Regions from separate parts of the Homo sapiens genome. Here regions 1 and 3 are each linked to region 2. Evidence: fine-mapped expression QTL. A gene starts in region 2. Each other region holds a variant in brackets. All regions are shown on one strand. Distances are from middle to middle.

The links.
Region 1: its variant is fine-mapped to the expression of LINC01515 in caudate (GTEx, PIP 0.98).
Region 3: its variant is fine-mapped to the expression of LINC01515 in prefrontal cortex (ROSMAP, PIP 0.95).

What each region holds. Positions count from the first base shown.
Region 1 is chr10:65,774,818-65,785,221 of GRCh38, forward strand. The region is part of intron 5 of LOC105378339 (a long non-coding RNA gene); the gene reads right to left. Among named protein-coding and RNA genes, the nearest start is that of LINC01515, 210 kb to the left of the region's middle. The variant C/T (reference allele first, on the strand shown) is at 4,999.
Region 2 is chr10:65,565,949-65,576,352 of GRCh38, forward strand. It overlaps LINC01515 (long intergenic non-protein coding RNA 1515), which reads left to right and starts at 5,477. Exons shown (of 6, transcript NR_120647.1): 1 at 5,477-5,631; 2 at 6,987-7,108. RefSeq lists a silencer at 990-1,190.
Region 3 is chr10:65,744,359-65,754,762 of GRCh38, forward strand. All of the region lies in intron 5 of LINC01515 (long intergenic non-protein coding RNA 1515), which reads left to right. It overlaps LOC105378339 (a long non-coding RNA gene), which reads right to left. Exons shown (of 7, transcript XR_001747476.2): 6 at 2,390-2,426; 7 at 1,223-1,259. Among named protein-coding and RNA genes, the nearest start is that of LINC01515, 180 kb to the left of the region's middle. The variant T/TCACACACACACA (reference allele first, on the strand shown) is at 5,800.

The sequences.
Region 1 (10,404 bases), 210 kb after region 2:
TCTTAAAAGTTCCATAACTTAAGCCTCTTCTTTGAAAGGAATTTCAGTACAGTAAAAAGTTCGGTGGAGTAGTGAGAACTCTAAATTGCTTTATCAACAGATGTAATATGATCAGAATAATTTGGAGATCACTGGTGAAGAAAGCTAACATTACACAGGCTGACATCTAAAAAGTGAAATAAAAATATGACCACAATAATTTATGTTTAAAACTTCCACCCCCTTTCTGCAGTTATATTTTAATATTTGGTTTTATTTCTATCCCTATGAGCAGATTCATGTTTAGATAGACTACATGATATTTTTTTTCTAAAAATCACCCATATCAGTATTTTGCAGTGGCCTATTATGAGAATTACTTCTTAAATATAGATTTTCAGTAATTTAACTTTCTTCCCAAAGAAAGATTAAAGACAGATACATTTCTATCAACTCAAGTAAGACCTTTCTGCTCTCATCATTTACATTTTCCCCCTTATCCTTCACACTGATTCTTAAGTTCCAACTATGTAGACCATAGTATTATTTCAAATGTTGATTTTTAAATGTGACACAAAATAAATGTTCAAAATGATACACAATTAAAATTAATGTAAATTCACATCACTGTCAGCGGATTATAGAAACAGAAATGGTGCATGTCATGTGCTTAAAACATAAGGAATAATGTTATTAACTAAGAGAAAACAAAATTTATAGCTTACAAGTCATTTTAAGTATAGATTTGTTTTGTAAACACTGAAAAAGCTAAGCTGTACTAATTTTCTAGGTCTGAAATGCCCTTATTTACTTATTTAGACTTCAAAACATAAAAATAAGTGCCTCCAAAGAAACGATAAAATTATACTGCCTTTAAATTCCAAAATACACCTTATTGAATTTAAAATATATTACATACAACTAGATCTGGAGGTAAAAGACAGTCTAAATTACAACTTAAAGCTATGTTCATTTCATGATATTTTTAATAGCATGATAAAAGTTAGATCATCTAATTATTTTTCATTAAATCCATACCCATTAATAATGTATGCTTATTAATATCAGAATAATAAAATAAAGAAAGGAAAATAAGAAGAGATTTTTGTTTTACAAATGTATTTCACTTTATTTACTTTTTATTTATTTATTTGAGATAGGGTCTTATTCTGTCATCTTGGCTGGAGTTCAGTGGTGTGATCATGGCTCACTGCAGCCTCCATCTCCTGGGCCCAAGCTATCCTCCCACCTCTGCCTCTCGAGTAGCTGGCACTACAGGCATGCACCACTGTGTGGGGCTAATTTTTTAAATTTTTTATAGAGATAAGGTCTCTATGTCTATGTTGCCTAGGATGGTCTCGAACTCCTGGCTTCTAGCGATGCTCCCACCTCGGCCTCCTAAACTCCTGGGATTCAAGGCGTGAGCCACCATGCTCAGTCAATTTTCTTTTATTTTTAGCAGCTTTATTGAGATATAATTCATATCCCATACCATTCACTTATTCAAAATTTGTAAGCCAATGGTTTTCATTATATTCATAGATTTGTGCAATAATTACCATGATCAATTTTAGAATGTTCTTATTACTCCCCAGGGAAAAAAAAATTTCACCCAACCCTGTCTCCCCAGCCCTAAACACACATTAATCTACTTCCTGTCTTTACAGATTTGCCTACTCTGAAAATTTAGTATAAATGAAATCAAAATAGGCAGTCTTCTGTGACTGAGTCTTTTCACTTACAATGTTTAAAAGGTTCTTTGATGTTTTTGCCTATAGCAATACTTCATTCCATTTTATGGTTGTATAATATTCTATTTTACAGTACAAAATTATATATGCATATATAATTTAAAAAAATTTATTCATCAGTTAATAGGCATTTGGTTATTTCCACTTTGATTATTTTGAACAATGCTGCAATGAGTATTTTTGTACAAATTAATGTGTGGACATACATTTTTATTCCTATTAGGTAAATGTTTAGGAACGGATACTGGCTGAGTCACATGGTAACTTCATGCTGAACATTTTGGAAAATTGCCAAACTGTTTCCCAAAGTGGCTGAACAATCTTGCATTCCCACCAACAGTGTATGAGATTTCAAATTTCTCCACATTCTCTTCACCACTTGTTAGTTCCTGTCTTTTTGGTTATAACCATCTTAGTAGGTGTGAAGTGGTATTGCATTGTGACTTTGATTTACATTTCCCTAATGACTAAGGATATCAAGCATCTTTGAATGTGCTGTTCACCATTTGTAAATTTTCTTTGAGAAAAAGTCTATTCATTTACTTTGCCAATTTTCTGATTGAGTTCTTGTCTTAATTATTGAGTTTTAAGATTTCTTTATGGCTTCTACTTACGAGTTCTTTATCAGGTATATAATTTGCAGATGTTTTCTTTATTTTATAAATTGTTTTTTAAATTAATGTTCTTCAAAGCAAATGTTTTTAGTTTTGATGAAGTTCAATTTGTTTTTGTCTTTTGTTTGTTCCATGTGCTTTTATGTCATATCTAAGAATTCATTTCCTTACCCATGGTCATGAAGGTGTAATCCCATATGTTCCTTTAATAATTTTATAGTTTTACAACTTATTTTATGTATTTGACCAATTTTAAATTGACTTTTGTTTATGATGAGAGAGAGACATTCATATTTATTCTTTTGCATTTGGACATCCCATTGCACAAGTATTATTTGTTGAAAAGATTATTTTTCTACCATTGGATGGTCTTGACATTCTTGTTAAAAATCGAATAATTGGCTTGTAAAAACTATACATTATTTAATGTATACAACTTGTTGAGTTTGGGGATAAGTATACACTACAAAACCATCACCATTACGACCATGAACATGTCCATCTTCTTTCTAACTTTTCTTCTACCTCTGTGTGTGGTAAGAAAACTTAACATGAGATCTACTTTTCTCTTCTACTTTTCTTCTTTTCTGTTTATGCCCTAAAGTTTACTGTCTTAGTGATAGCAGCTTAAAATAAGTAAATATTTGGTAGGATGAGTTCCCTACCTTGACAATATTGTCTTATTGCCTTAGACATTTTTGCCTTTTCTATTTCTTATTAATTCTTATACTCACCTTTAACTTTTGAAGTCTCATTTTCTCTCTCTCTTTTCTCTCCCTCTTCCCCCACACCATCTTCCTCTCTCTTTCTCTCAAACACACACACACACACACACACACACACACACACAACACAAGCACACAGTCACAAAGTTTCTGATAGCTTTTATAATAAAGATGCATAATAATCTGGATGAAATGTTCACTTCGCAAAATAGAAATAATCCATTCATAAACATTGTATACACCACCAATTATTTAGGTCTTATTTTATGGTTCTCAATGATTTTTCTATATCAAGAGGTTTTTTTTCCTTTTTTTATTTTTAATAGAGACAGGGTCTTACTATATTGCCTAGGCTGGCCTTGGTCTTGTGGCCTCAATTGGCCCTCCCACCTCAGTCTCCCAAGTAGCTGTAATCACAAGTGTGAGCCACTGCATCTGCCTATACCCAATTTTTGCATATGTTTTATTAGAACCATTCTCAGGTACCTTTAGTTATTATTATTATTACAAACAGTGACTTTTCTATAATTACATTTTTAGCAATTCACTGAAATTTTATTCCATTTCTCTGTTCTACCACCCTGAGAAATAATTAGCCTTCCCTTAGGATATCAAGACTTCTAGAATTCCAGATATTATAGCCAGGTATGTCAACATCTGGTTGATAAGGAGGGCCTTTTCTCCTAGCAGTCACTTTTAATTACGGATGGTACCCTTTTCTAGAGTATCACAACTGGTTTGCTGTTGGGTTTCTTGACTAAGATCAGGTCACATGCTAATCATGTCCAGCCATAAAGGAGAATGAAAATGTAAATATCTGAGTTTTCAGATGCTACACTAGAAAGTGGTTCCTTTCAATTGAGATGGGGTGGTGGTTATAAATGTTGGAAAACAGTAAACAAATATGAGTGAATGTTACAGCTTTCTATTTGAGAAAGCTCATTGCGATAGATGTTGATGGTGGCACCAGCCTGTCTAGAACAGCCATTGTGGGGATGCCAGCTGCTGTGCAGGAGGCACTGCTGAGGCTGCGTGCTTTGTGGAGCCAATGGGGTCTGGGAACAGGCGGGAGCTCCACCCCCTACTGAGTTGGTGAGGCGAGAGCCCCACACTCCTGGACACAGCTGCAGCCGCCCAGCTGCAGCTCTGGACCAGGGCATTCTTGCACTCTTGGGGGTCCGGGAAGCTCCCTGCCCCCACAGGCTCAGAAGTGCCTTTTCCTGCTCCCTGGCCTCTCCCCACTCTTGGTGCCCACTTCAATTTTGAAGCAAAGTTGAAGCTGAGCCCATGCACTATCATGACCTGGCAGGTGTGCGTGCCCTCGGGGAGGCGCTGACACTCCAGGTCTCCTGCTGCCTCAGCCTCCTCTGAAGCTTTGGACAATGAAGAGCTCAGGGAGGGAGGCTGGAGGTGGGATGGAGGGGCTGAGGGACGCTCAGCACAGGCCTTATAGGTGCCCTTTGGGGTGAAGAGCCTGGGCTCCAGTAACAGCATGTTGATGGCAGCAGGAGGCAGACAGGTTCCTAAGTGGAAAGGGGTGGGTCCCTGGTGAAGCCCCAGCTTCAAGCCAGGGGTGGCCTGAAGCCTGGGAGCCGGGCTGCCAGTTCTAGGTAGAGTCCGTCATGGAGAGTGAGAACTTATGGTGCTTTTTCCAGGCCCATCCGTGGCTGCCCATGGACCAATCAGCATGCGCTTCCTCTCTTCTGAGCTCATGAAAACCCTGGACTCAGCCAGACTTGCACACTCGTCAGGACAACATCCCTGCAGAAAGGAGCTACTTGCCATGTTTCTCCTCTCCTCTGTGAGCTGGAACCCCATCAGGACAACTTGCCTATGGAAAGGAGCTACCCACTTTGGGTCTCCTGAAAGCTGTTTTGTCACTCAGTGAAGCTCCTCTGCCTTCCTCACCCTCAAATTGTCCATGTATCT[C/T]GTTCTTCCTAGATGCAGGAAAAGAACTGGGACCTGCTGAATGGTGAGAATGAAAGAGCTGTAACACAAACAGGGCTGAAATATGCCCCCTGCTCACCACATTGTGAGTGATGAGGAGAAAAGAGCTGCAGCCCTTCTGGGAATGCAGACATCAGGTCTCCCTGAACTAGGGCTGTGGCACTCTCTTTGGGGCTCTGCTTTTGGGCACCATCGCATTCCCCTTGTCTAGATGCTGGTGCCCACAGCCAAAGCTGCTTTTAATATGCCTGGTCTAGCTTCAGTCTTCCATGGAGCTGGTGCCTGTGCCAGTGCCTGGAACCGCCCACCCCTCTGCCACAGCTGGAGCACCTGGCTGTGTGCAGTGGCTGGACCCTGCACTCACTTGCTCACACATCCCTCACTGCTCCATGCCTGGCTTGCCCATGGCAGTTAGGGGATGCGGCTGGTAGCACAAGCCGAGCAGGGGCTGCTGGGCTGAGTGGGTGGAATGAGCCCAGCGAGCACAAGCAAAACCTAAGCAGAGGCACCACCAGCCACAGAGGTTTCTGGCTGGCAAATTGACACCCTAGGAATCCCATGACAGCCTGGGCTCCCTGGTTGCCCACTGCATTCTGGGAGAGCTTAAGGATCCACTGTCTTTAACATCAAGTTTTCTAACCTATATCTGTTGAGACTTTTTAAGTTACATCATTTCAGAAACATTAACCATTTTTCCGTCAGAATCAAAGCCTGAATTCCAAATCTTTTGGTACCAGTAGCATATTTTTACAGTAATTTTCATTTTTCAACCCTGGCCGTTCTGATTTTGTAGTGTACCAGCCCCTACTCTGGCATGAGATGGAAAGGCTAGGGAAACTAGGGGTTCAAACATTGCATTTTCAGCTGTTTGAGATAATATAAGCTTTGTGTTATGATTCTGCAGGAAAATAAATAAGTAGATAAATAAATAGCACCAAAAAATAACCATTAAATGTCTCTGAGGGGCAGACTAATGATAAGCCATAAATTAGGGCATAAATACATTGATCAGCTGGCTACTAGCAAACCACCAGAACTCTGCCGCTATCTGGAATGATAACCTGTGGGATACAGTCAACTTTCTGCCAGAGCTCCATTTGAGCTTGAGCCTGTCATACTCAGCTGATGCCCAAGTGACCCCTTCTCTCATCTTTCATTCATTTTTCATGCTTACATTTTCATACTACCCTGCTTTGTTCCCTTGCCACCTCTTACTTCCCTCCAGAGGTTTACAGCCATAAGTCAATGGCAAAAAAAAAAAAAAAAAAAAAAAAAAATGCCTTACAATACAGTGCCTCAGTGTAAGATTTAGAAAAAGCTAGAAAGATGACAAGTTGAAAAGATGTTCTCACCCTTGTAATGGGCTGACTCCTGAATCTGTGTTACCTTCTTGTACAATTCACTGACCTATTTTTCATTTGTTTCTTAACTTGGTTTTAACTTTGGCCTATTATTCTAAAGTTGGCTTCCAGAATCCAATCTCTATTCTAGTTATTCATTCTTTACTCAAATATAGTTTTAAGGCCCAGTCTTTGCCTAGCACACAATTGAAATGTTGACCATAATACCCCCTTGATATCTTTCTCATGCTTTATTCTCTGTGAAGAATAGCAGCGTGCACCTTTGTTTATTCCTCATGAATAAAAATATCAATAAGAATATATGAGTGAGAGCATAGTATGTATTTTATAACACATTGATTTGTCCTGTGACCCTAGGCAATATATATTTTATTAAAATTATACAACAATGAATTCATCCTGTTCTTCAATAATTTATCTGAGTAAATTCTTTACAATGGGATTTTTTAACACGGAATGTCACAGATAAAGCCTGGATCGTCTCATCAGAAATTTTTTACAAATTATTAAATGAACTGGCTATTACTTGGACTCACGGTTTCTAACCTTCAGTCTCACTTGGACTTCTAAGGATGCAACTAACTCCTTCAAACTAGTGAGATACAGAAAATGTAGCTGCAATACTATAGTACAACATTAACACTCCCATGCACAAAACTGAAAGGGATCATATAATACTGGTGTGTCTACGCTGAGATGACATATTGCACGCTAACAAACATTGCAAAATCCAGCACATCAAGAAAATGAAAAATTGTTGAATAGCAGGTGATTGGAATGTTAGATGCCAATGAGATCCAGGTATTTTGCTAACTGTTCTAAACACATTTCTTCTGTGAAGAGGAAGCAATACAATGGTGATTGCTTCTCTTCTGTGCCTGCCTTGTATCACACTTTCAAAAGAAAACAGTCTTTTTAACCATAATTTACAATGCATTATGTAATTGGCTGCTGCAGTGAATATGCAGAAAGTATTTGTTTAATTTAGAATTTAAGAACTGCTGAGCTTGGTCCAATAAGTGTGGCAAGACAGAACTTCTATACTTTTGTTGAAAGTCAACATTCCACACTCAATACTTAAGCAAGTCCCTTCAATATGTCAGTTTCACCATACATCACTTTCTTTATAAGTTGAGTTCTATTAATGACAGTTTTGATGGCCATTTATGAAGATGAGCTCTTCATAATGCCTTATATATATCTCAACTTGTGCTGTGGATATGCCATTATGTAAGTCATTTCCTTGTATTTTTAACAGAAGATGAGCAGTTCAATGATACTGATCGATGTTGGTGGCTTTTTATATTCTTCTCTAATGAATAATGTGAGGTGCTAGTGGTGCTATGTGTTTGTGTAAGCATATTCATATATATATATATATATATATATATATATATATATATATATATATATGAATACAGAGGTGGTTAAAATATTAAGCCAAGTATTCCCATATGCATGTATGAAATTTGTTTTAATATTTTCATACAATTTTGGAGTCATTATTAGTGCTATTTAAAGATGACTTACCCTTTAAGATATTTGGCCAAATACCTAAAAATTTTCTTACATCTTATCTTAATCACTTCCATCAGATTAACTTGTAAGTCACAGAATTTATGTTATCAGTAATCAGAAAAGATTAAAAAATATAATTTGGGCACCCACTAATAACTCAACTAGGCATCAATACTTAGCCAAGCAGTACTACAAACCTCAAGATCCCAAATCATTAGCAGCAAATCAAGATTGAGAATAAGGACCATCTCCTAGTCATTCCTCAGGAAAGGTTGGGGCTCCTGCATAAATTTCCAGGGGTCTTTTAATATCCAATATTATGGAGACCTATTCACATTATAATTTCTGAACATCAACCACTCTCAGTTTAACTTCATTTATGACTCTTTGCCCTTAAGAGAGCCAGTGACCAACTTCAGGCAGGGGTAATTCCATTTCTCTGAGGAAATCTGTTGTACATCCCATAGACATATTCAGTCTTCTCCCACTTTTCTGCTTCCATCTCCTCATCTGATGTTTTCCCTCTTTACTTCCATATTCCCTATTTGCCAATCATCAGATACCCCACCTGAGTTAGGGTATCATTTCATTGTATTTTATTACCATCAGGTAACTGGCAGGAATATCATGAATTTTTTTATCCTTTAAGAAAAGGATCCCTTATTTCTTCAGAATTCTCTTATCTTTTTTCACCTATGTTTTAAGTATTTTCCTTTGAGATATTTAGCTAATTTGACATTGGTTCCAATTCCCACCTGGTTAGTGGAGATAAGTCTCTCTCATTCCTGGTATATTTTACACTTTTTAAACCAATGTTATTTGCTTTGCTCTCTGTTCTCTGAATCATTTTTCAGTTTTTACACAAGATAGAGCAAAACACAGAGGTACGTAATTTAAATAAACCTGCAACAACCCTAGGGAGAGATATTGTTATACAAATTTTATAAACATAAAAACCAAGTTTAATAACCCACCCAAAGTCAGGCAATTAATAGATAAATGGTACAATTTTGTATCGATTTTATCTCATTTTAGTATCTAAACCTTTCCTATCAGTAAACAGTTTCTCAGGATTTGAATTAATATCCTTAACTGTTCCTTTTCTATCTTCCCCACTAGTACACTTTGACCTTGCTTGGCAAATTTGCATAATAATATCTGGATGTAGCATCTTTTTCTCTGAGGGATATATATTTGCTTATCATTTGTCTTCTGCATTTTCTATAAATACCAGAATTTTTTTGCTAAGAGAACTGGATAATAAACACTATGGAATCAGAAACATCTAAAAATTTTTTTAAAAATTAATAAAATTTAGTACAGTGAGCACAAAATAAAAGTAATTCTGTGACAGCGACTTTAGCAGGAGACATGAGTCCAGTAAGCAAATCTGACTGATTTGTTGAAGCATTCTGCCTGCAGGTCAGTGTTGCCTTGCTTGTTGAAAAGCCCACTTTAACCCCCAACTCACTGAAGGGTACGTTACAGCCTGCTTCATGAAATGTAAAGTTTTCAGGTATGGATGTTTGGCATTTTCACAAATGAGAAATTTGAAATGTTTACAAATAAAATATGCTCCAAATGACAAATTCACTTACAGGAGGGTTAGAAAGCATCCTATTTTGACAGCTAATTTTACTCTGCTTACTATAAGGAAATTTTCCTGGAAAATCAGAATCTTTGGAGCAATATCTAAGTTCAAATCTTATATACTGTGTCCATTATCAATATAAGCTTGGAAAATTAAACACCTCTGAATCAAGTTTCCTCATTTGTAAACTAAAGACTGTTTACTTAGTTATGATAAGTGAAAGACATCAAATACCTCAGTGCTCAGTTAGTAATAAATTACTTTCTCACATTCCTTTCAATGGGGACAGGATATTATTCCATGGGCCTTATGGGTAAACAATTATCTTACATATGTAACCAGCTCTTAGTATAATGGAGCCAGGAGAGAATCCTCCTAATATATGTACTTCACAATTTTTTCCTCTGGCTACTTGTTTTAAATGAGAATAAAATTAAGTAAAATAGCCTAACAATTCAAAACTAGACCAGCAATAATGTATTTTTAAACCCTGGAAAATTTACTTATTCATCTTGAACTCCAAATTTCTCACTGAGATAATATGTTGTTTAAACAAAAATGTCTGTAAGAGTCCATAAAGTGACAGAATGAGTGAATGTGCAAAGAAACTATTCCAAGAACCAGGAAAATACAAGAAGAGTTAATAATAACCCAAGCAATTAAAATGATGCATATCAGGTACTGGGGATGCTTTAGTGTGCTTGGGCTGCCATAACAAAGTACCACTGATTGGGTGGCTTAAACAACCAACTTATTTTTCACGATTCTGGAGGCTTGAATTTCAAGAGCAAGATACTAGCAAATTTGGTTTCTGGTGAAGACTCTCTTCCTAGCTTGCAAATCACCCACCTTCTTGCTGTGTCCTCACATGGCCTTTTCCTCTGTGCTTACAGCGAGAGAGAGAGAGAGAGAGATCTG
Region 2 (10,404 bases):
TGAACACAATTGATAAGTAATGTACTCCAAGAATACAATGAGAATGTACAAAAATAATCTGTAAAGCATTAAGACAGGTTGAGCAAGATTGTCATTTGAGTCCTGTGGAAAGAAAATCAGACTGGTATTTTTTTCTAAATGCTTTTCAAAATAACAATGGAAAAACAATTAAAAACTCCAAGCCTTGCTCAATGCCACATTATGCAGATAGAATAGGATACTCTCAATTTTCTTGAATTTATGCATGAAACAGTTTTTTATCTTTACATAGAAAACAATGACTTGTCTGTGCAATTTTTCTTGCTTTGATATTCTAAAACATGAATATTCTTTATTAATTAAAAAGGTGTCCATGGTTGCAGATGAGTTCCCTATAAAATATCTCTTGCTAACCAGTAACCAAGAAAACAGAATGCTTCATATGATTTTGAACGTGAACCTATCTCAGCAATCCTATTACAAAATCCAATTATGCTTGTCTCTGCCTTTATGTTTCTTTCGAATGTTTTTAACGTACTTTTTCATCTCCACCTCAGGCAGTCAGGGCTCCTTTTCATTTCGCCTTCCTCAAAAACTTCTATACTTGAACCTCACAAATCCTGGAATTTCAAAAACTAAAAGGTATTTCCCAATTAATTCATTAACAGAACATGTTGAAGGTATAACAACTTTTGCTTACTCTGAACAGAATGGAGGAGTTAATACATTTCTTCCATCTGAAAAGAAATTGTAAAGATCTAAACTTTCTTTGAATATCTACTTGCTCTCAAATAATTTGGTCAGTTGTCTTACTTTAACTTGAAAACTATATTCTTAACGTACGTACACAATTCTAAAAAAAGTTTTAGTCTCAGTTAGAAAAGTCATATGTAAATAATTAGAGACAGTAACTAATTATTAATGTCTTTTTAAAAAATGTTTATGTATATATAATTTCATCTGTTCTAAAAATAATTAGGCAAAGCAATCATGTTAGAAGACACTTCGCTCTGATAAACTGTTGAGATGTTAAAATCAGGAGAAATTGGTAGAATTACAGAAACTACAGTTTGGAAGTAACCTCAGAGGGCATCTCATTTAACTGGCTGCCTCATGGATTGATGCCTTCAGAAAGGTTTAGGAGTAGTGACTGTGCAGTTTCTGCTTCAGTACTTCCAGAGAAAGAACACTCACTCTTAATACAACCAGGCTTTTCAGTTTCTGGAGAGCACAGTTAGAAATCTCTTTCTATTCTTCAGATCAAGGTCTACTTTATAACTCAAACAGTAGAACTCCCATATATTTTTGTAAACAACTTTACATTTCATAGCTTAAAGTTGAAATAAAAATGTGCATCCGTGGCCCTAACTAGGATAAAGTAATATTCAAAACCAAGAGTGGCATCTGACATTGTTCACTTTTGAGACTGAGTTTTGTTTTTGTTTTTTTAAATCAGGCAATATGGTAATCTGTTAGCCTAAGAATATCTATACTTACATGTTCAAACTATAGAATAATTATTTCTTATAATGACTGCCTAGTAGACTAGAACAACTAGGGGGCATGTGGAAAGTTAAGAAAAATCATATTACTTGAGGAATATATGGCTATATTAGTGTGTGTGTTTGCATGTGTGTGTGTGTCTATATAAATGCTTGTAACTGTGTGGATGTGTCTGTGCAGATTTTATGTTGTCTATAGATGTGTCTGTGTGCATGATGAATAAGAAAGGAGTAGAAAGTAAAGATTTATTGTTAGCTCTGACTTCTTCCTTGCATATCATTTAAACTTAACAGCAAATAACACTGGAGAGAACACATTTGACTGTTATACCTGCATACTTGAATCATCTGTGTTCTTACTTGAATATGGGACAAATAGATATTTATAAACAGCTTCAGGTGAATTGTATATTATGTTGAATATGTATATTAGATAAAATCCAAAGATTTTTCTGATGTCATGTTGTGTGTTTGTTGGGATGTGTGGGGTTTTTGTGTGGGGGTGGATAACAATCATTTCTGTTTGGGGAGCCATGCAATTTGACCACATGTAGCCAAGTTAAAGATTGGGACTCCCAGCCCAAACTAAAAATTATGGGTTTTTTTGTATAGAAGAAGTAAAAGATTTTGCCTCCAAAATGTTAAGAGAAAATGAATAGATTTTGCAAGCACATACTATTACCTTCTGAATATCATATTTTGAATATTTTAAAAATTTGGAATTGAATTTTAAATATCATTTATACATTTGAAATCTATGTTTTCTAGATACCCAGAAGGTAAAACCAAAGGATTCATAAAAATATATTGGCAATTTTACTAATTAGAAGTTCTATACACAAATAAGTGAAACCAAAGATATGAGGCTTTTTAAAAATCATTATTATTATAAGAGCATAGATTTGGTTGTCTTTGTTCTATTTTCTGTGCTAAAATTGCCAGCCATCTTGAATATGGCATCTATTATATAATTTATATAATTTGAATATGCCAAATAGTAAATGGTCAATTTTATTTTATAAAAAAAAGCAATTATTGAATTTTATGTTTTCCATTGTCTAAATATATGCTATTGTTTGCCATACAAGTTTAGAAACGTTAAAAAGACAGTTATAAGAAATTAAATCTTTAAATAATTACAGGCTTTGGAGTTTTTTTCTTTCCTTTGTGTTCTTTTCTATAGCTTTTAAAGTTTCTTGGATAGAGGACCCCCTATTTACTTCTCTTGGCTTTGATATTTTTTGGACTCATTGCACTTAGAGCATACTCTCTGATACATTGCGGTTTACTTAAAAAAAATTCTAATCTGGTGCTCCACACCTTCCTATAACTAACTAGACATTTAGCCTTATAATTTACATAGGTTAAGATATAAATCTTGAAAAAGAATATGCAATAACATATCAGACAAAATAAGCATACTTAAAATACATAAAAGGACTCCTAAAAATTGTCTATTAAATGTCAGATAACTAATTGTTTTAAGTGCAAAAGAAATAAATGAACATGTCACAAAAGAAGATCTAAGAATGCCCAATTAACACATGAAAAGCTGTCTAACAGCTTCAGTCAATGGGAAAATGCAGATTAAAACCACAATAAGATATTGTTGTCCAAAGAACCTACAACATTTTACCCTCCCACCAGCAACGTATGAGATTCATATCTGTTTTACATCTTCACCAACATTTTGTATTGTCAGTACCCCCCAACATTCTTTTGGATGTGAAATAGTATTTTACTGCTGAATAATATTCTTACACATTTCTTTTCCTGTGAGAGTTTCTTATAAATATAAATTTACACTTATTCCGTGGTTAAGCAATCCCACCCCTAGGTGTTTTCTCAAGAGAAATAAAACAAACATATGTTCACAAAATGAATTTTACAAAGTATCATGATAGCCTAATTCCTAATAGCTAAAAGTAGAGTACTCCAAACTTCCATGAACAGCAAAATTTTTAAAAATTTACTTTTATTCTTATTTTTTTATTTTTAACTCAGCTTTTTATCCCAAGTCAAGAACTGCTAAACAAATTATGGCATAACAATGAAATGGAAAGCTACACAGTAGCAAAAAGGAAAAAAAAATAGGAATGCATGCAATATTATGGATAGATTTAAAAATTATTATGAGTAAAAGAAGCCACTTTCTAATGTTGCTGGCTATTAATTTTTACAAAGACATTTCTATCACTTTCTACATAGTTCTAAATATGTGCTATCCAGTATGTCCAATAGCTATATGTCAGCGGCTATTACCACCAACAAGGAGCTGTTAAGAACTTGAAATATGGCTTGTGTGATTAAGAAAGTAAATTTTAAATTGTATTTAACTTTAATTAAATAAATGTTAAGATTAAATAGCCACATGTGACTAGTGGGAACTATACTGGACAGCACAATTCTATATCTCGTTTAGAGTGGTAGTTAAATGGGTGTGTACAATTGCCAAAATTCATCAAGCTTAAATCTGAGTAGTTTATTAAATTTATATTATACCTAAAAAAGGCAAAAAAGTTGCAATGTTTATTTGTGAAAGTTTCCATTTAAAAACTAAAACAAGAACTCAAAATTAATGACATAGTTTTGAGGGCATATTCAAGAAGGTAAGAAGAATAAAGCTTCACGTATCCTTAGAATTCAAATAAAACCCGACAGATTAAAACATTAAAGGAGAATCTCAGACCTAACTCAGTTTCTGTCTTTCCAAACGTTACTTTATGTTTATTTCATAGGTGGAATGTTGTACAGTGTCATCTGTTGCTACCAGTGAGTGACATCTGTGATTAATCGCATTGCCTTAATTAAACAGCAATTGCCTGGATGTGATCACCTGCAGTGGCCAGCCTCCAATCAGATTAGCTCCCAAACTCCAGTTCTCTCATTGCAATTAACTTCACTTTTCACATAGGTCCCCAGAGAATTTCAATATGTCTGATGTCAAGAACGGAAAGTGAGACAGCCAGGTGGGAGGGGGTCCCTGGAGAATCTCCAACCAGCCTGCGCACTGGGAATGCGCACTGGAGTGAAAATACAGAAGTTGGTGCCCTTTGCAGCAGCCAGGAGTCCGACTCCTCCTCTTCCTGTGTGGAACCTGGAATTCAAACGGCTGGGTAGGAAGCACGCTAGCAGGGGCCTCTGGCCTTGCTGAGGGTCCCTGTTTCCCCTTTTCCTTCCTTTTCACCCAACAAAACCCTGCTTTACTCACCCTTCAAACCATCTATGAGCCTAAATTGTCGTGGTCGTGGAATGGACAAGGACCCAGTCTTTAGCTGAACTAAGGGAAAGTCCTGCTTTTTGGCGCGCAACAGGGGAGCTCAAGAAACAGTGAGTGAAATGGGGACTCAAAACCTCTCACTGTTGATCCTAAGCATTTTCATCCTCAGACTACTGAGGGTGGGGGAAACACGACCCCAAACTCCGTTGCTCCGTTGGGGGTCGTCGGGGGAAAGGCCTTTTCCTTCCTTTTTCAGGACAGACAGGAAAGCCGGGGCTCCTCACTCCCCCTCCCCTCTGTGCCCGGGACGGGATGCATGGCCCAAGGGTCCCACACAGCTGGCTAGATGGTTCTCAGACACAAGCCACCGCAGCCTTCCTTTTCCCCTGCCAGGGGGTTAAACTTTATCAGAGAGTAATTAAGCTTTAACCCTGCTGTTGAAATCACTTGCAGACGAATAAGAAGTTCTTCCCCAGGCATTTTTAAACCTTTTTTCACTCCCCTTTTCCACCTCCTCAACAAGTAAACCCTTAAAGTTTTTTTTTTGTTTGTTTGTTTGTTTTTTTTTAGAAGACACTTTACTAGGCCACTCCCTCTGCTCCCCAGCTATCACTGTATGCTCTGCAAAGTTTTGCTTGTGAAATAAATCCTCTATTTTGTTTTACATCCTGAGGCCATGGCTTATAACTCTGGCGGCAAGGATTTGTTTAGCAATCCTGCCTTAGGGGATGAGCCCTCTCTAATTCAATATCTGCATGTCCCCTGTCTCTTAAAGGGCCTCACTCACGGCATATGGAACTAACCACGCCCCTAACTAAGAAGGCACACCTTAGTTGCAGTTAGCACACAATTAAAGCAACTCTCCAAGTTTTACCTTAAAGTTCAAAATTGCTAGGAGTTGAAACTACTAGAAATATATTTACATGCAAGGTGAGTAAGAACAGTAAAATGTGTTTTTTAATAAAAGGTTATAAGAAGGCATGGAAATGTAAACTTTTGCCTAGGGTTAAAGGATTGTTTGAGTTAAATTAGGAAAAAGCTGAAGGTTCAAAGAAGTGGTGGGAGAACTGTGGAAATTAATCTTGCAGAAGAGATTCTATGTGAACATATTGACTAAATTCAGAAAAGGGTATTGTTTGGTTTTTCTGTAAATTGAAATAAAAGCATAACAAGATTTTCCTAAGGTGCTAATCTGCTCTTTGGCACATTTGTAAAGGGTTATAACAGGTTTTTGCTTCTTTAAAATTTCTGAGTCATGATTTTGGCAAAATAAATAACTTTTGGTAACCTGGAATTCTATTTCATAATATCAAGTTATTTAAACCTCAAACATTTAACAGCCTTCCCAAAATCAAACCTCAGTTTCAAAATTGTCTTCCCTGGCACCTGGCTTTTCAAATATGTCAGAGGGCCCCTGAAGTGTCCAGAGAAGAGAGGTAAACAGGATTATTTGACATGTTTAGGTACATGGGATTGCAAAAATTATGCTCAGTCTTCTTTAGGTTGTATCTGGGTGAATAATCCTAATACATGTTCCAAAATTGTATGAGATTTCTAGAATTCTAATGGCTGAATATATGCTATCAGTCATAATTAAGGTCGTTATGTTAAGTTATTGTAAACCACGGAGATAACCAAGCTTCTTTGTCAATCGTGTTTCTAACTGTAAGTACCCTGGACATTTTGCTATTCACAGACAGTTGTTGCCTTGTTTAATCCTTCTCAAAGATGGTTTATAATGAGCTATAGAACTTTAACAGGTGCTCTCAAACACAGGCTTCTGGTAACTTTGGAAATTGTAACATTAAAATAAAGAAAAATATACAGGACTCATAAGGAGCTGAAATGCTCACAAATATCAAACAAAACAAGAGTTAACTAAATGGACTGAACTCAGGAAACTGAAACCAGGCTGGGAGCGGTGGCTCACACTTGAAATCCCAGCACTTTGGGAGGCCAAGGCAGGTGGATCACCTGAGGTCAGGAGATCAAGACCAGCCTGACCAACATGGCAAAACCTTGTTTCTACTAAATTAAAAAAAAAAAAATTAGCCGGGCATGGTGGCACATGCCTGTAATCCAAGCTACTTGGGAGGCTAAGGCAGGAGAATCACTTGTACCCAGGAAGCAGAGGTTACAGTGAGCAAGATTGAGCCATTGCACTCCAGCCTGGGTGACAAGAGCGAAACTCCATCTCAAAAAAAAAAAAAAAAAAAAGAAAAGAAACTGAACAAATCTTTTTAACCTTTGCTTGGAATATTGCTGATCCGTGTTTTGTTTTTCAGAGTCAAAGAAACTTTGAACTATTTATGGCCTTTAATAATTAAGTAAGGTATACTCCTGTGATCAAGACTTGGAGCATATTTGTTTCTCTCTGCCTGGTTCCTCTAGAAATTGGAAACTATCAGTGAGTATTTTTATGACAATATAGTTGTTTGCATCAGTGCAGTAAGAGTCCATTTTCAATGGCGGAATTCTTTTCTCACTCTTTTCGTTGTTTAATAATTATTATAGCAATAATAATAATAATAAATACCAATTATTACATTAACTCTCTGCATGTCTATGTTCTTATTGCATTTTCTTATAAGAACACAAGACGTATTGGATTATGACCAACTCTAATGATCTTATTTTACCATTTTAAATATCCTATCTCCAAATACAGTCACATTCTGAAGCACTGGGAGTTAGGATTTCAACATAGGATTTTGAAGGGGCACAGTTCAGTCTGTAACAGTGGTTAAAAACCCAAGTTCAGAAACCAAATTTTCTTTGCACAAATTGCAGTTTTGCAGATTAGGAGATATGAGACTTTGGCAAACTTGCCAAGACCTTGGTGACACTCTTTATGTCTTCTTGTTCTCATCTTTAAAATGAGAGGTGAAAGAGGATTAAAAATTATTACATAAAAACAAAAGACTTAGGATGATGATGAAATGCTGGTAATATATGTTAGATATTAGTATTTTTTATCTCAATAAATTCAATTGCTGTAACTCTTGATTCCTCATCTTGCTACTGTGCAATTGCCCTCCTCTTCCCTCAGTGTCACCCATCAAAGGGTAGATAGTCTCATTACAATTCTTACTTCTATATTTCTTTTCTGATTGATCAGTTCCGCCTCTTTATTGACACTGGGATTTATATGCATTGACTTAAAAATGGAGAAACTACAAGCAGCATTAGAGGCTGTTTTTTAATTAATGAGTCTCTCCGCTTACACCATCAAACTGAAGATTAGCTGTTGATTTATGAGATACCCTCAGCTTGTATCTTGTGCCACATCCAGATCATTGCCAATTCATTTCCAGAAGGAGGATCAGTACCATTATCTGCTCAGTATCTCTCATTTCAAGCACCTCTCAGAGAGAGAACTGAAACATCTTTATCATTACCAGCAGTAAAGCTAAAGCAAAAAGCTATTCTCTGAAGCCTGCTGAGGGGATGAAATTTTTCAAAAAATACATCTCTGGGAGATGGGAGAAAACCTTTTCCACACCTTCCCTGAGAGAAGCAAAAGGGATGTGAGAAAGGGAGGCATTCTCTTCTGCCAGGGTAACATACTCCTCCTATAGTAATCCCACATCACTGAGGGCCCAAGTTCCCAATGCTTCTGCTCTTTATTTCATCTAGACAGCCATTCTTTCTTGCTTTTTTTTTGTTTTTTTTTGAAACGGAGTTTCACTCTTGTTGTCCAGGCTGGAGTGCAATGGCGTGAACTCTGCTCACCGCAACCTCCCAGGTTCAAGTGATTCTCCTGCCTCAGCCTCCTGATTACCTGGGATTACAGGTGGCTGCCACCACGCCTGGCTAATTTTTTGTATTTTTAGTAGAGATGGGGTTTCACCATGTTGGCCAGGCTGGTCTCGAACTCCTGATCTCAAGTGATCCACCTGCCTTGGCCTCCCAAAGTGCTGGGATTACAGGCATGAGTCACCATGCCTGGCCAGCAGCCATTATTCTTATACACACCCACAGACCTAGAGAAGTTAGTTTGAAGTTTCTGTCTGTGCCATATGCTACACTTGAGACCAGTCCCATTCTCCACTTTTCCCATGATGTGAGTGTCAAGTTTTATCCAAGCCTTCACTCCAAACTCATCCTCTGATGCATTATTAGTTCTTCCTTCTAGAGCCCTGTTTTCCTTTCTTTACCAAGGAACTCCTTCCTTTCTTGAACAAGTTAGTATCTGGTCCCATTCATCAGAGCTATTCTGATACTATTGAGTCTATATAGGGTAAGGGTTAAAGCTTGTATTCTTTAATTACCCAGGAAAGGTTGCATGCACTATCACAAGCAGCTGTCAGGTACAATACAGTATCTGGCATGGGTTGGGAGGTAGAGGGTAGGGGGTATTGTTGAAGACTTTGCTAAAAAAAAAAAAACTTAGGTTTTACTGAAGATGCAAATTTAGTCAGTAAAGGGAGGGATACAAAATTCTCTCCCCATCTGCTCTTGGTTCATATGTTACTAAGCTTGGAAAAATTAGATGATTTTTTTAACCAGTGGTTTCCCCCCATTTTGTATTCATCTGTCTTATAAACCAATGGTTTTATAGGGGCATATTTTTAACTGCATGGAAATAAGAATATGTATATAATGAGTTTGTTTTACATGCAAAGTTTAACAGAAGTCATAATATTAAGAAATACAAAAAATTTGGAAAGAATCTAATTAAATTAAGAAGAGAAAATAATAAAAAGTGAAACTATAGGACAACAAAAAAATAAATATGTGGTAGTTGAGACTTCAGGATTAATTAATTCATTTTCAATACTTTTTAACAAAATAATTGTTATATCTACTATTGATTTAGAATTTACTAGGAGCGAGGCATTTCTCTAAATTTGTTTATATTATTATAAATCTTTATAAGTATAATATAAAAATTACTATGTTTATTTTACTATATTTATTTTAAATAATTTATTTATAAATTCACTATATTTATTTTAAAGATAATGAAAGTGAGGAAGTCACAGAGCGATTAACTTTATCACACACAGCTAGTTAGTTGTAGAGCCATGGTATGAATCTGAATCTACAAAATTCCAATTCTCTAAATTTTTTTCTAAGTTGTTTTATGTTTAAGCTATAGTTCTTAGTAATATATTTATATTGTGTTAATTTTTAACACAGCAGTATACTATCTTTTTATGTGTTATTGTTAATAAAATTATATGGCCTTCAAAAAATGTTTAAATATTTTTCAAAGCTTTTTTATATATATACATATAATCATTAAATTTATTTGTGATTTATGTGGCACAAAGACAGGAAAGTATATATATGACAACAGGTAAAAGAATAACAAATCTAAAAATATAATAATGGCAAGAAATTAAACGAATTTCAGAGGATATCATTTTATATTTAAAAAATCAAGAATTAAAGTTTTACAGTATAGAAAAAGAAAGACATGTAATACAAAAGCTGATGAATAGGAAGATGGTTGATAGAAAAAATAAAAACGATGTTGAAAAATAAAAATAATGTCAGAAATAAAATACCATTGTAAATTAACAATTAGAGCAACACCAGTATTATCTTAACGTAATGAAATTGTATAATTTCGTAAAATGAAAAAAATTATAGTACCCAGTTTCAACAAAGGGAGAGGAGAGCAAGCTTGTTAACATTTGCAAAAGTACAGGAGGAAACAATAAATAGATAAAAATAGTCATATTAATGAATGATTAT
Region 3 (10,404 bases), 180 kb after region 2:
TGAACATCTATCTTAACTACCCTCCCTCAAAAGAGAAAGAATTTGGAACTCTATCTCTGATTAAATCTATCTTGAATGTTATCATTTTTGAGCATTTTAGTTCCATTTTTTATTTCCTAATCACAGACATATAAAATATTATCAACAGTGTTAGGACCATCACAATTCCATGGGCAAGGATATATCCGGGCAAAGATGATTGCATTTGACTAACACAGATCAATGATTCTAATATGAAATACAATCTACTCATCTCTCGTGTCTCTGATTTCATGGTCTGAAAGCCCCCCTATGCTTTTTCCTCAAAGGATGTTTCCTCGGTGGATGCATGACAGCACATTGCTGTCATGAACATTCCACACTGTTTGGCAGTATTGTTTTTCTCATTTTAACCAACAAATTGAAACTGTAGTTTATATGCTGGTCTCTTGGGAATCTTTTAAATTATGGCAGGCATAAACTTACTCCAGAGAGATCAGATCCATTTCCTGGAAAGGCAAACCCAAAGATAAAATCCTGGGACATAAGCAATTTTGTTTCCTTAGAAGTCCTTTCATCTGTCTTGTTACTGCAGCACACAATTGGTCAGAGAAGCCCTCTGAAAACTTCAATAACAGTAATGCTAACTCTACACACAGAAACTCAATTGCATGTTTTCAGGAAAAATGTAAAAATCAACAATATGATATACATGACCCAAACAAATAAAAACATCACACAGTCTTTATTCTCATAAGACATTAGCTGCAATAGGGAATTAACATATAGTGAAAAAATTATTTTTAAAAATTTTTCTCCTATTTTCACTTGTGTTGTTTCCACTTTTTGAAACTTTTTTTTTTTTTTACTTTTCTTCTTTTTTGTTTTTTTCATTCATTTATTACTGCTTTCATTGTCTTTCTATGTTGATAACTGGGAAAAGTGTATAAGGTTAAATCTTGGGTTACTAAGGAAAAGCTATAGAAAAGAATCATATGCGGCCAGGTGCAGAGGCTCATTTCTGTAATCCCAGAACTTTGGGAGACGAAGGCAGGAGGATCACTTTGGCCCAGGAGTTTCAGAACAGCCTAGGCAACATAGGGAGACACTCTCTACAAAAAAATATGAAAAAAATAACCAAGTGTGGTGATGCACACCACACCTGTAGTCCAACTTACTTGGGAAGATGAGGTGGGAGGATCAGAGGAGCCCAGGAGTTCAAGGATGCAGTGAGCTGGGATCATGCCACTGCACTCCTGCATAGTTGACATAGCAAGACCCTGTCTCAAAAAAGAAAATAAAGTAAGTCATGCTATTAAAAAATATAAAATGTATTAAGCTAACTCACCAGATAAAGAATGGAAGAAATCAGTTGAAACCTAAGAAATAATTAATGTCATTCAAAGATAATTGGTGAGAGTCAAGATAATTTCTAATTAATAATTGACATTTTAATAGAAGCAGATACAGTAAAAAAATAAATTTAGAAATAAGATTTTATTCAAAGGAAGCATATTTTGACTTTAAAAGGCTAAACTCTGTCAGAATGTATTATTGTTGAGTGAAACAACAATTAAATTTCATTGTAGACTTAAGGAAAATTATTACATAAATATCATGCTAGTTCTGATGAATCCACTTTTCAGATGCTTTGCTTTACACTAATTGGCTTATGTTTGCCTAAGGATTATGTTTGAATGCCATCACAGTAATCTTGCTTATTCTTGTATTTATACACACAATATATTTTTCATACATATTAATGCTATGAATGAAATAAACTGTGTCATTGCTATTGGCAAAATTGTGTGAGAAAAAGAAATCTCGAAGGAGCATTTTTCAGACCACATTAATATTTTCCTGTGTCTGTCTCATTCTCCATTTGTATACAAATATAAAAATGTAGCTTTGAAGGTGATTTCTCTACTCAGGCAATGATTTTCCCAAATATCCTGAAATCACATGTTACCAAAATTCATATTCACTAATTGTTCTTTTTCTACTCTCCATACTTGCATATTTGTCTTTTGTGAAGTATTACAAATAACATATGACATATGATTATTATTATTTAGAATGTTCAGGTAAAACTTTTAATGATCATCTACAACCACTCCATATTCATCAAATACTAGTTACATGATCTTGCAGATTTAAAAAATCCAATATCGTTTAATTGTTAACAGTGACTAGTTATTCTTTTTAATATTTTCTTGTATTCATTATTGCAAATTCACCTAACACAGGTATTATGGAGGTGATAATTAAGTTTGGAAGATTGATTTTACTTTCATGACATCTAAGCATATAGTCAACAATGTTGTTAATTGAGATAAAGTAAGCATAATGATTAGAAACTCAAGTATTTAAACCAGTAATCATTCTCAGCTACCAATATTGTCAGACTTACTGTTGATGTTTCAGTGCATATGTCAGACTCATATCACCTGCAAGGTAATTTTAAAGTAAAACTGGTGAGGATTTAGATAATTATACGTTGATGAACATTTTCATAAAGTCTGATACAAAAAGTAAAAACAAATGAGGATGTAGTTTGTTTCTGTTATTCTTGAAACAGCAAGACAGAGAAACGATACTCTTCATAGGGCTACATATATATATATTTTAAGACAGAATCTCTCTCTGTTGCCCAGGCTGGAGTACAGTGAAGTAATTTTGGCTCATTGCAACCTCTGCCTCCTGGGCTCAAGTGATTCTCCCACCTCAGCCTCCCAAGTAGCTGGAACTACAGGTGCATGCCAGTATTGTATTTTTTTGGAGACACGCCTGGCTAATTTTTGTATTTTTAATGGAGACACAGTTTCACCATGTTGGCTGGGGTAGTCTCCAATACCTAACCTCAGATGATTTGCCTGCCTCAGCCTCCCAAAATTCTGGGATTACAGACATGAGCCACCGCACCTGGCCCATAGACAATATTTTTTTGACTTGCATGAAACCAAAAACACATATAAGACAGCGCACAGCAAAAATTAGAGTGTACTAACTCAAAACTTTCATGGATTTGATTCTTTGATAATCCATCTCTAAAATATTTTCAAAAAGTATCTCATTTATGGGTCCAGAATACTTGCCTGAGTGCTCTCTCAAAGACATCTGATCTTTTTCCATGTGTGACCTCTGACAAGCTCATGCATGAAACCTAAACCACTGTCAGATTCAAATCAATTTAATTTAATACTACGTTTTTGGAAAGAGGAAAGTATAAATGTTTCATGTATGAATATTGTATATCAAATATACAAAATCATCAACTGATTACCAAAAATATCAACTTATGCCTGGTAGGGTTGAGTAGAGAGATTCAGAAATAGCCATAGAGAAACATTTTATAAGATATTCAACTTAAAAAAATCACTGCAGTTATTAATTACTCCAAAACAAATGTGATCATTTCTAAAAAATTGGAAACTAATAGGATTACAGAAATTTTAATCCACTACAGAGTGTTTAATACACATATATTCTGAGCCTATCAAATCAGCTATATACTAAGAACACATTTGTGTGAGTGTGTATATTTTTATACATAACTTTAACAAATATAGAAGTATTTTTATAGCCAAATTATTACTCTGTTTTGAAGGAAGTAATTTTTTTGGACTACATTATCCAATTATATTGCAATTGTTTAAACTTTGCTAATGGAAAATTTCTTTCAAGTTTCAGTAGGGCACAATATTTAGATTGAGTTCAATATCGATTATGATTATTATTGAATGAATATTTCATTTGAAAATAGCCAAGACATTTAAAACAGAAACAAGTCTGGTAGAATATCAGATATTACAGAATTCTCTATATCATACTATAAATACTAAGTTTGTCCTAAGAGCAATGTGAACTGACCAAAATGTTTCAAGTGAGAAAACTGTAGAATAATTAAATTGCATTGTTCAATAATGATTCTTTCTGGAATGAGGGGACATAATTAAAGAAGATAATGATTTGCATGAGTAATTATACTGAATGAAACTAGTGTGAGATCATTGATGATTGAAGAAGTTGATTTGAGAATTATTAAAATTTTTAAAAATTAATTTTTTTTGAGGCAGTGACTCGCTCTGTGACCCAGGCTGGAATGCAGTGGCACTATCTCAGCTCACTGCAACCTCTGCCTCCCGGGTTCAAGTGATTCTCCTTCCTCAGCCTCCCGAGTAGCTGGTATTACAGGCACACTCCACCATGCCCAGCTAATTTTTGTATTTTTAGTAGATACGGGGTTTCACCATATTGGCCAGGCTGGCCTTGAACTCTTGACCTCAAGTGATTCACCTGCCTTGGCTTCCCAAAGTGCGGGGATTACAGGCGTGAGCCACTGCACCTGGCCTAAAATTTGTATTTTTAGTTGACAATAATTGTATATCTGAGAATTTTAATTGACACAACTCAGTGACCTACTATAAGTAGTTGGTGAAAGAAAAGGACTTACATATTTCTGGATGGAGCAACTATGTAAATGATGGCAGCTCTCATGAGATAGATAATATTGGAATAGAAAAACATTTGAGTAATATAACGTGTCATTTATTTCAAATATATTAAGTTTGAAGTGTGTAGTATGCAATTTAATAGTGAATCTGAAACTCAAAAATTGTTTACAGTTGGTGTTAAAAATTCAAAGTTGTCAGAATACGGTTGATGGTGGAAATTGCTGGAGTCAGTTGGTTCACTGGGGGATATAAAGACTGAGAAAAGATAATTACTTAGAGTATATAGAATCTCAAACATCTGATGATTACTCAAAGAAAGAACAAGCAAATCAGACTGATAAGGAGTTGTCAGAGAGGTGAAGGAAGACATTGAGATTATGCCATTGTAGAAGCCAGAGAAAGATGGCTCAAGATTTTTTTTTAATCAAATGGTGCTGAAATCTAGTAAAAGTTGTCTTACAATTACTTTTCAATAGAAGCTTTTAGTAGAATAACTAGATTTGAAGCCAAAGAGGTGTCTTGAGAATACGGTGGAGATGAGAAACTGAAGACAATGAACAAATGAACCATTAAATATGTCAAAGAGTTTCTAAAGAAGAAGAAACAGATAAGGCAGTAAAAGATGTATTAAAAATATGTGAGACAGAAGTTTTTTCAAAACATGGATTTTACTTGAGTCTGCATAAATGCTGCATAAATTAATATGTAGAGGGAAAAAGATGGGGGGGATAGAAGAAAGAGAAAACTGAAATTAGGGAAACATTCCAGAGCATAGGAAGACCTGGTATTGAGAAGACAGCTGGGGGAGGGTCTTTATTTAGGAACAAAATGCAAATCAGTGACTTATCTCATAACATATATGAAATTATTCCAGATAAAAAAATTAAATGTAAATAGAAAATATATTTACATACCAAAAGAAAATATTGATAAATATTTAAATGATTTTTAATGAAAAAACTTGATGTAATGGTTTTTAAAAGAATCAATAGATTTGACTGTATAAACTATAATCTATAATATGTCACAAATGCCATAAACATAATTCAAAATAAGTAGTAAAATGAGAAAAAAATGCTAGGTATATGAATGCTACTAATATAATATCAGAGTAGATATTAGAATGTATCTTGTAAATAAGGGCCACATGTGATGATAAAACCAGAAACAAATGAAAAAACAAGGTTCGTGGGAAGAAAATGAATGCCTAGAATGTAGAAAGCAATAAGAGAAAGATGTTTAGACTTAATGAGAAAAAAAATGGATAATCTACCAAAATAGACATTTTTTAAAACTCATCAGTGATGAGGTCACAATAAAACCAGGTATGTTGTTCGCAAATTTCCAAGTTCATACATTTCCTAGT[T/TCACACACACACA]CACACACACACACACACACACACACATATATGTCTCATATATATATACCTGAATGTATATAATATATATATTTCTATCTCTCTCACTGTCTATCCAAATATCTATATCCTCATTATTTGCCAAGCCCATTTTTGAAGATTTTCCTACTCACTAAAATTTTTTTGTGAAAACAAAATTAATACTTGCTGCACTTTCACAGTCATTGATGGACATGTGCAGATTGGCAAAAATGTATTACCCAAAGTACAGGTTGCCTACTGAGGTCAAACCAGGAGATGCTCTGCCTTCTTGTTTTAGTTCTTACACTATAAACAAGTGTCCTTTTGGAATTCTACTTAGTGCCATACCTATTACATTTTTATACTTTGGTGATTTGGTTGTTTAGAATGACCCACAAACATAGTGTTGAAGTGGAAGGCTGAGATGTGCCTAGTAGAGAGTATATGTTTGTTAGATAGATAAGATTCATTCAGGTGTGACACATAGTGCCGTTGGCCATCAGTTCAATATTAATGAACTCTCTCTCTCTCTACATATATATATATACATATATATATATATACATATATACATATATATATATATATACATATATATATATATACATATATACATATATATATATATATACATATATATATATATAATTTTTTTTTTTTTTTGAGACAGAGTCTCGCTCTGTCATCCAGGCTGGAATGCAGTGGCACGATCTCGGCTCATTGCAACCTCTGCTTCCCGGGTTCAAGTGATTCTCATGCCTCAGCCTCCTGAGTACCCGGAACTACAGGCACCTGCCACCACACCTGGCTAATTTTTGTATTTTTAGTAGACCTGGGGTTTTGCCTTATTGGCCAGGCTGGTCTTGAACTCTTGACCTTGTGATCCACCCATCTTGGCCTCCCAAAGTGCTGGGATTACAGGTGTGGGCCACCGTGACTGGCCAACATTATGTATTTTAAAAGATGTCTTCAAATAGAAACACACATAAAATAAGGCCATTTATGAATCAGTTGAAAATAAATATAAAATCTGGTTATATGAAAATATAACCAGAGCTCTCAGGGCCCTAACCCTGTGTTTCCCTTAGGAACAATGGTTTAGTATTTGCAAATTCAGTGTTTGCAGCAACTTTATATTTCCTAACTACCATGAATAATAAAAAATGACTCTAAATAGAATCATGTGTCACTTAACAATGAGGTTACTTTCTGAGAAATATGTCCTTAGGTGATTTCATCACTGGGTAAACATCACAGAGTGCACTTACACAAGCCTAGATGGTATGGCCTCCTACACACCTAGGCTATGTGGTATAACCTATTACTTCTAGGCTGCAAACCTGTACAGCATGTTACTCTACTTCACACTGTAGGCAATTGTAACAAAATAGTATTTGTAGTATCCAAACATATCTAAACATGGAAAACACACAGTAGAAATAAAATATTATAATCCTATGGAACCACTGTCATATACGCTGTCCATTGTTAACTGAAACACCTTCATGTGTTGCATGACTGTAGGTGACTGGTAGCTAGCTAGCTAGATTGGTAGCTAGATACATATATGTTCATACATAAAATAGTGAAGATACAGGTGTTTTATTATTTTTATATCTTTTAACTTTCTACAAGGAGCTGTAATATATTGACTAACACTCAACAGTTTACCTGATTAAAAAAATGTGTTTGTGATTGTGTATGTTATGCAATCATATGAATGTGTTTGGATATGTTTTTGACTGTTTTCCTTACAAAAAAATTGTAATTTTTCTTTGTTCTCGAATTTCTGTTTTAGCACAAGATTATTGATGATTTCTGTTTCAGAATTGATCTGTGGTTTTCAAAGTATGTTCCCTGAACCAGGCATCAGGATCATCTAGAAAGTTGTCAGAACATTCTCAAGCCTCACCCCAGACTTAGTAATTCAGAATTTCTGGGTGTGGGGCCAAGCAATACATGTTTTAACAAAACTCCAGGTTATTTTGACACATGCAAAAGTTTGAGAACCACTGGTAGGAATCACTGAATTGGCCACACAGATATCTGGCAACATTCTGTTACCACAATTTAAAAGAAGAATTGTAATTTTAGTGGAATGGTAGACTTTTGTCTATTGAATATTTAAATCCTTTATTTGACAACATTTTAAATAAAAATATGATGACATCCTCAGAAAATGCTAGTCATATCTCAACTATATGTTTCTGAAAATCAATTTTTTTCTTTCTTTTATTGCAGCTAGAATTATCAGGAGATAGTTCTTTTAAAACTATATGTAGACTCCTTTAGTCAATAATACATAATGACATACCATCTGTACAATAATGCAACATGTCACATACACAATACAAACCCACACCTATGTACAAGCATGAAACTCTTCTTATTTGGGCTATTTGATGGCAGGCATTGCCTCTGGCTAGTAATTTCCAAAATATTTATTTGTAGCAAACTTTATTTTGCTACAAGAAAAATATAAAAACTATTGTATAAGCTACTTTTCAAGGACAATCTTATATAAACTCATTAATACAGCATGCTTTATTTTGTGAGGATCCTTGCATGTGATATGAATTCTAGTTCATTTCTATTCTACAAACATTGCTAATAAGGGATTTAGAACAAGGAGATCAGAATAACTGTAAATGTTGAGAACAACAGTTCAGACACTCAAGAATACTAACAACTACAAAATATTTTCAGATTTAAAAACAAACCTACATTTAAGAGCTTCTAATAAGAATATAATTTTAAAGTCTTGGCATTTTCCTGAAAGAACACTGATTAAAATAAAATACATCAGAATCTGCTTAAGTACAGTGCAACTACTTTAGATAACCAACAGTAACTTATTTTTAACTAATTTTAAAACTATTTTATATGTTTTTCGCAATTTTCATCATGCCACTGGCAAGTTATATGATGAAGCCAAACCTCAGCAGCTTCTTGGGCTAAAATCAATAAGCCAGGGATCTTTTGTGACTTTCTCCGGGTTTTAAAAATGTCTTATGAAGGATCATCAGCCTCAAGTCTAGACACCTCTAAAGGACTTATTTTCTTAAAATGTCTGCACACAGACCTAAAGGTAGAAAAAGACCTGGTGTAAATAAGAGCTGTTGGAGTTAAACCGATAAAGTCTAAGGTTGCAGTAAGCATGATGATAACCCTTGTCAATGTTTTGCAAGATTATTTACCTTTCTCTCCTGGAATTCTTTCATAGGCAAGGAAATAAAGATTCAGTTTGCTGGTGATAAGTAGGTCACCAAGAATTTAACGAAACCAAAAGCTGGGAATTGAGGAAAGGAGAAGCTGTGTGCTGAGTTTACAGTACAAGAAGCTGTGGTTTTGCCCAAGTTTTAGTATTTCCAATTTGAAACCAAATAACAGAAAATTTGGTATTTACAAATGCTACCCATGTTTCACTGTGTTATTGAGATGGCTCAGTTATTTTATTAAGTGGATCACTTCAATCCAGTTAAAGAACACTCTTCTACGGTTTTACTGCTTTAGATTATTTATCATCAGGATTTCTCAGAGCTTCAGATCTACCTAGAATGTTTCTGGGCTTGCATTTCTATGAATCATAACTCACACATATTTATAATTCATAAAACCTGCCAGGAACTGATCTGTCAAGTAAACATTTTCTGAATTTCATTATGCATATAAAGGACAGACTCATAATATGAGTAGAAAACAAAATTGTTATCTCCAGAAGATACCTAGACACATTTTAATTCATTTGAAGGAAACTTGCTGTTACAGTAGAACTAGAACAAATGGTTCATACAAAATTACCTACTTGCTTAGGTACAGTGCAGTAACTATTTCAGGTGACTAGGAGAACTTCAAGCAAGTTTTTGTTCTGGAAAACTCAAATGGCCAGAGAATACAGTCATATGTCCCATGTTGACATTTCAATTGAAAATGGACAGCATGTATGACAGTGGTCCCATCAGATTCAAATACCATATTTCTATGTCCCTTTTCTGTGTTTAGATATGTTTACATACATACTTACAATTATGTTATGATTGCCTGCCATATTTAGTACAGTAACATGTTCTACAGGTTTGAAGCCTAGGAGCGATAGGCTCTATTATATAGCCTAGATGTGTAGTAGGTTATGCCATCTAGGTTTGCATAAGTATACTCTGTGATATTTGCACAGTGATGAAATCGCCTAAGGATGCATTTCTCAGAAAGTATCCCCATCATTAAGCAATGCATGATTGTACAGCTATGCTAATTAGAATGGTCCAATAAGTCAAATTGACCTGAAAGTCATTAGTAAGAATATGAAGTGATGCAGCTTTCCAGAGTATTTCTTACTAACACTATCAGATTTTTAACATATTTCAGGATGATGCATAGCTAGGGCAAGTAAGAATTGGGAGAGGGGGAGGAATAAGATATAGAAACATCTTCAAAAATGAAAGTATTTTATGTAATTTCTTTTCCAGAGTCCCTAATGTATTAGGGAATAACCTAAGTGAGCTGATTAAGCTCATTAAAAATACTACTAGCAATGAATGACAGATTTAAAGGTTTTACATTAATTCCTAATTTTTTGATAAGTTGTCCTCATATTTGCGTACATAT